Linked DNA regions of Homo sapiens: region 1 is linked to region 2. Evidence: fine-mapped expression QTL. A gene starts in region 2. The other region holds a variant in brackets. All regions are shown on one strand. Distances are from middle to middle. Region 1 holds the start of MIR4762 (microRNA 4762). Region 2 holds the start of ATXN10 (ataxin 10).

Evidence for each region. PIP is the estimated chance that this variant, and not a neighbour inherited with it, causes the effect.
Region 1: its variant is fine-mapped to the expression of ATXN10 in esophagus mucosa (GTEx, PIP above 0.99). The same link has a PIP of 0.9 or more in fibroblasts.

Annotation. Positions count from the first base shown.
Region 1 is chr22:45,760,088-45,762,993 of GRCh38, reverse strand. The region is part of intron 9 of ATXN10 (ataxin 10); the gene reads right to left. It overlaps MIR4762 (microRNA 4762), which reads right to left and starts at 2,470; the gene lies at 2,396-2,470. RefSeq lists a silencer at 1-185 and an enhancer at 1-343. The variant A/G (reference allele first, on the strand shown) is at 1,593.
Region 2 is chr22:45,670,470-45,673,375 of GRCh38, reverse strand. It overlaps ATXN10 (ataxin 10), which reads right to left and starts at 1,542. Exons shown (of 12, transcript NM_013236.4): 1 at 1,197-1,542. The coding sequence starts at 1,312. RefSeq lists silencers at 910-1,239, 1,570-1,619, 1,680-1,869.

The DNA of each region.
Region 1 (2,906 bases), 90 kb before region 2:
CCAATCCCCTGAGGATGGTCTGATTCCGGATGCTGGGGTAGAGCCTGAGACTCTGCATCTCAGACAAGCCCCTAGGTGATGCCTCTGCAGTCCACAGTCTGGGCTGTGAGGGACTACAACAGGGATGGAGACAGACCCAAGGGAAGCCACGCAATTACTCTCACTTGGAATTTGGAGCCAAAACACAGGGGGAAGGCATCTGTCAGTGGGGGCTCCACAGCAGGGAGGGGAGGATGTGGAGAGATGGCTGGGGCCATGTGAGGTCACCAGCCTGGAGACAGGAGTAAGAGTGAGGTGGCCTCTGGGGGACCAGGAGGCAGTCCCTGAGGCCTGGAAGCCCCTTGGTTCATGCTCTGGGAGTCTGTGCTCTCCCTGTGGCCTAAACACATACACTCTTGCCCAGCTTCCCTTCAGCCAGCTGGAGAGCGAGGAGGAAGCACCCTGGCCAGACAGGAGCATGCCTGGGAGCCTCCCAGGAAGACACAACAGGTGTGCAGACACAGGTTCGGCTAGGGTGGAGCCCACCAACACTCAGCCAGAACATGCACCGTGGAAAGAATCCTGCTGCTGTGGTCTGCTTCTGACTGAAATCAACTGCTTTATCTGCTATCTATCATAACAAAGATAAATAAAAAATGAGATGTAGTCATGAAGCGGGAGTGCCTACCCTGGGTCAGGCCCTCTGTCAAGCAATGCAAAGACAGAGAAAAATAAGCCGAGGTCCCTGCGCCTCCAGAAAGAAACGCACGCTGGTCAGGGGAAACAGACAAAGGGCAAATAAATAGAAACACAGTCTCGGAAACGCACAGGGGACAGAGACTGACTTCCTTTCTACCTGTAATGTCAAGCTTTTCACTTTTTCTGCAATTGTTACAAGTAAAATACTATCTTTTATGAGTAACTTTTGTTGGTTGGCTCACTTAAACCATAAAGTGAAGTAAAAACATATGACTAAATAGGAAGTTTTTAAAAATCAGAAAACCTGGGAGTCAGAAGGCTCTTAAAGGCGAATATGGTCCATTCACCTGCTTCAGTTAAGACCACAACTACTTCATCCCAGTCAGATGTGTTTTTTTTAAAAGCCAGATTATACTTTAATCTATTTAAGTATAGTTTCAGCCCAACTGCACTGAAATCAACCTTTTCTGTTTTAGCCAACATTTTAAAAAATCTAACACAATGGTCTAATTTTTTAAAATTTTAATTAAAGGCCCATTTAGAAAAGTAACCAACTTTTGATATTCCCTGAGGTGGAACTTAAAACAGATTTTAATGTAACTGCTAACAAGGACTAAGCAAAAACTGGGAAGAAGTGTATGATAAAAAAATAGATAAATAAAGAGCAAAGGCTTGCATAAAATGTTCCAGTCACTGGATTATAATGCTTCGTTACATTTGATTTTTACCTTTTCGAGATTATACCTATGATACTGTATTACAATTTAACCAGTTATCACCTAGTCTTCCATAAAGGTTGGTGAGAAATGAAAATTAAGTAAACACAGTATTACATAAGTGCTTAGAAAAGTTTAACTGTGAAAACAATGAACAGATTTAAAAATATTCATTTGTTCATCCCTAAAAGTTTACAG[A/G]GCACTCACTGTGGGCCCGGAACTGTGCCAGGGGCCCTGGAGAGAATGAGGAGCAAACAGACATGGAGCTTACATGCTAGGCTTGTAGTGTTTTAGATGGTAATACAGTCTCTGCTCAAAATCACCAATATAAAAACATTAAAGTCCCAGCTACTTGGGAGGCTGAGGCTGGGGAATCGCCTGAACCTGGGAGGTGGAGGTTGCAGTGAGCCGAAATCACGCCACTGCATTCCAACCTGGCGACAGAGCAAGACTCCGTCTCAAAAAAATAAAATAAAATAAAATACTGAGGTCACCCTTGAAAACATAAGCCAACAATGAAAATTCAACTTCTTTCCCAAAAGGAAAACAACAATAATGAAACAGAATAAGCTACCTGAAAGAAAGCTTCCTCTTTCATTACTCTTTATCAAATTACTGTCTCTCACATATGTCCTTTTATTTCCAGGCTTATCACCACCCTCCAACCAGGCCTCCACTGCTGTAGCAACCTTTTAACTGGCTCAGGAATCCACTCCGCACACTGGGGCTCTTATCAGTGAGGATGGGCTGGTTCGTGCTGCAGTAACAAACAATCCACAAAAATCTAAGAGGCTTAAAATGAAAGTTTCTTTCTTTCTCATGCCACTTAACAGCTGTGTGGCCTTGGGTACACTACTGAACCATTCTGGCCCTCAGTCTCCTCATCTGCAACATGGGAGAGGTATCATCATTAAATGAGGTAAGAGACGAATACTCAGAACTGTGCCTAGGACACAGGACACACTCAATAAGCAACTACTATTGCTGTAATCGTTGTTATTCTTGACACCACAAATCTTGATCAGAAGCCTTCCTAGCTTCTGATCAAGGCTTCTGATCAAGATTTGGGGTATCAGAAATAATGGGATATGACTACACCCTATCATCTAGCCATCTGTCTCCCACAGTAGATCATGAGCTACTTGAGAACAAGGACTGCCTCTGACTCCACTGTTGAACTGCAGAGGTTCACAGAAAGTGGCACATGGTAAGCACTCAGAAAGTGCTTGCTGCACTAAAGGGAACGATGTTGAATAATAATCACTGGTACGTGAATAAACCCCACATGTGCTGGACATACACAGAGTCCCATATTAATGAGGGCACACTCTCAGATGCATCTGGCCCGCAGGAAACCTGACTAAAAGCACATGATGAAGATAGGGAATGTCATCTGTAGGTGGGAAAGATGGCTTTACAGGCCCAGAACCAAGCCACAGTTGAGCTAGGCCACCAGTACATGGGCTACTGCTCCCAGGGAAGTCTAAGCAAACGAAGGAGGATGTTCCACGT
Region 2 (2,906 bases):
TGTCTAGTTTAAAGAGAGGAAGTCCTCTAGTGATCACCTAGGCTGACCCAAGTCTCAGTATTTCTTTCTTCAATGTTCCCTCTGCTTTGTACATACATACCCCCACAGCTGTGTTATCTTGTACATACTAGTACAGGAGAGAGCAAGGACTTTCCATTTTCCTACCCCATCACCTAGCACAATAGCTGATACATGGGTAACTACCAATCAATGTGTTAAGTGATAATATCAGCTACATTTAGTGCTATGTACAGGTATGTCCTAAGGATTTAATATGCATTATATCTCATTTACTCCTTATGACACTATCACCAGGGAGGTACTGTTCAACTTTACTCCCATTAAATAGACAAGAAAACTGAGGCCCAGAGGACAGAACAAGATCAAACAAGCATTGACTGAGGGCTTCGCACATTTTATATTTTCACGTACTTTATTTCATTTATTCCTCTGTACAATCCAGCAACTAAGCTGTGTATTATAGTCCCATTTTTAGACAAGAATTCTAAGGCCTGGAGAAACTGCACAGTAACACGCAGCTTGCAAGGCCAGGAACCAAATCCACAACTGTCGACTCCTGGGCACCTTCTCTTTTTGCCTGGCTATCTTGCCCCTCAGTGGCATCAGGACTGGACTGGTCTCTCCAGGCCCGTGCTCTTCCACACTGCACAGAGCGCTGCCCCCAGGGCAGATGGTGCAGCCTGGGCTCTAACGCCGAGGAGAAAGGAGTGCCAGTCCCACTCCATGCCTAGAGACTGCCATCCCCGCAACTGCCCAATTCCCGCGTCCGTAACACGGGTCTCTCCCGCTAAAACACACGCTTTATGACTCTGGGGGCCGCGTGGGTCTTGCAGCCAGGGCCTGGCGCAGCCCTCGCACATGACAGGGGAGGCCTAACCGTGTGTTGGGTCAACATCACCGGCACGCCGCGGCAAGGGCTCCCGGGATCGCGGCTTCGCACCCGGACTGGCTGCGGTGGGGGAGCGGGGCGCCCGCCCCAGGCCCCGCGGGGACCCACGAGCACGAGGCGGTGCCTGGGAGTCGGGAGGCCTGGGTGGCGCTCAGGCAGCCCGCGCAGGCCTCGCCCTCCGCGTCTCCAGCGAGGCGGGGGCGGCGCCTGGGTCCAGGCCGGGGCCGCCGCGGGAGTCCCGGCCGCCCTCCCCTGCCCGGGGCAGCCCCCCGGCCGGACCCGTTACCGGTTCCGCTGCTCTTTGAAGAGCGCCGTGAGCGCGCGCAGGGCCTCCAGGTCTTGGATGGGCGCCGGCACCATGACGCCCGACAGCCTGGCAGGCGGCGGCCTGGGCGCCGCCATCTTGCCGCTCACAGCTGGGTCGAGCCTGACGAGGAGGAGGAAGGCGAGGAGGACGAAGGGGGAGGATGACGAGGAGGGAGGAGTAGGATGGCGAGGAGGAAGGGGGAGGCCTCGCCCTACACAGCCCTAACCGCCGCCGCCGCTGCAGCCCGCGCTGCCCTGAAGCTGCGCCGCCGCCGGAGAGCTCTAGGCTGAGCCCAGACTCGCCTCAGGCGGGAGGAGGAGACGGCGCCGCGGGGGAGGGGGCGCCGGCGGAAGTCCCGCCTGAGGGGAGGGGGCGCGGCGGAAGTTCTGGGTGAGAGCGGGGAGGGATGCTGGGGGTGATTGACTGGGAAGCGTCGCAGACGGGGCTCCTCCGAGGGGAGGGGACGCCGGGGGGAGGGGGACCTGTGTTGATGTGGCCGTAACAGGGTCTCGGTCTTGGGAGCGGGTATCGGGAACCAGAGGTTCACCCTGAGAAAGAGGGGCGCGTCCTATAGGAGGGTGCCCGCGGACAGAGGGGTCTCCCCCAGGGGAGGGGATCCGGGGGGTAAGGGGCCTGTGGAGGGTGGGGCCGTAACAAGGTCTCGGTCTTGGGAGCGGGTATCGGGGACAGAGGTTCACCTTGAGGAAGAGGGGCCCTCCTGTGGGAGGGGGCCCGCAGACAGAGTGGTCTCCCCCAGGGGAGGACATTCTGGGTGGAGGGGACCCTCTTGGGAGGAGACGCTGACTGAGGGTCTCGGGAACGAAGGGGGCCGGGCAGAGGCTCCCACTGCTAAGGCTGAAGACCTTGATCCCACTGCTCAAGTGGGTTGATCAGTGCCCCCGCCCGGGTCCACTGGAAGCTGGAGCGGTCTGTCACTAGCTTGCAAGTCTCAGGCCCTGAAAACGCACTTCCCAGTACTTACTGATCATTGCTGATCAATACCAGACCACTTACCAGGCACTTTGCCTCTAGTGAGTATACATTGCTCCAGCTCCTCAAAGCCTTAAAATACCGTTCGAAGTCAAGAAGCTAAGTTACACAGCAATAGGGTTAGAATTGTTTTTTTTCCTAAGGGAAATGAATATATTTCACAGGAATCAGACAAGGCTTCTCTAGCTGGTGTTGATAACTCACATATTTTCTTTCCACTGCCCTTTATTACAGTGTATATACTTTCAACAAAAATTGTTGCTAAGCCCTGCGCTAGGTGCTGGAGATGTAAAGATTAATAAAAGACAGTTCCAAACCTGAAGGAACCTCACAGACTATTGAGAAGGAGAGAAGCAAACATAACTGAGTATAGTTGTGAACTGCTATAACTGTACAAATTGCTGTGGGACCACTTAAAATATATAAATACATACCCTTTACATTCTGCTTGGAGGGTAGGAGTGTGCTTATAACATGGCGCTTTTAACATTCTTTGCTAAATAAAATGTAAAGATAACAATAAACACCACCAGAGTATGCAGAAAAAGTGAATCCTGGTGGGGCATGGTGGCTCATGCCTGTAATCCCAGCACTTTGGGTGGCCAAGGCAGGAGGATTACTTGAGCCCAGGAGGTCGAGGCTGCAGTGAGCTGTGATCACACCACTGCACTCCAGCCTGGGTGGCAGAATGATACCCTG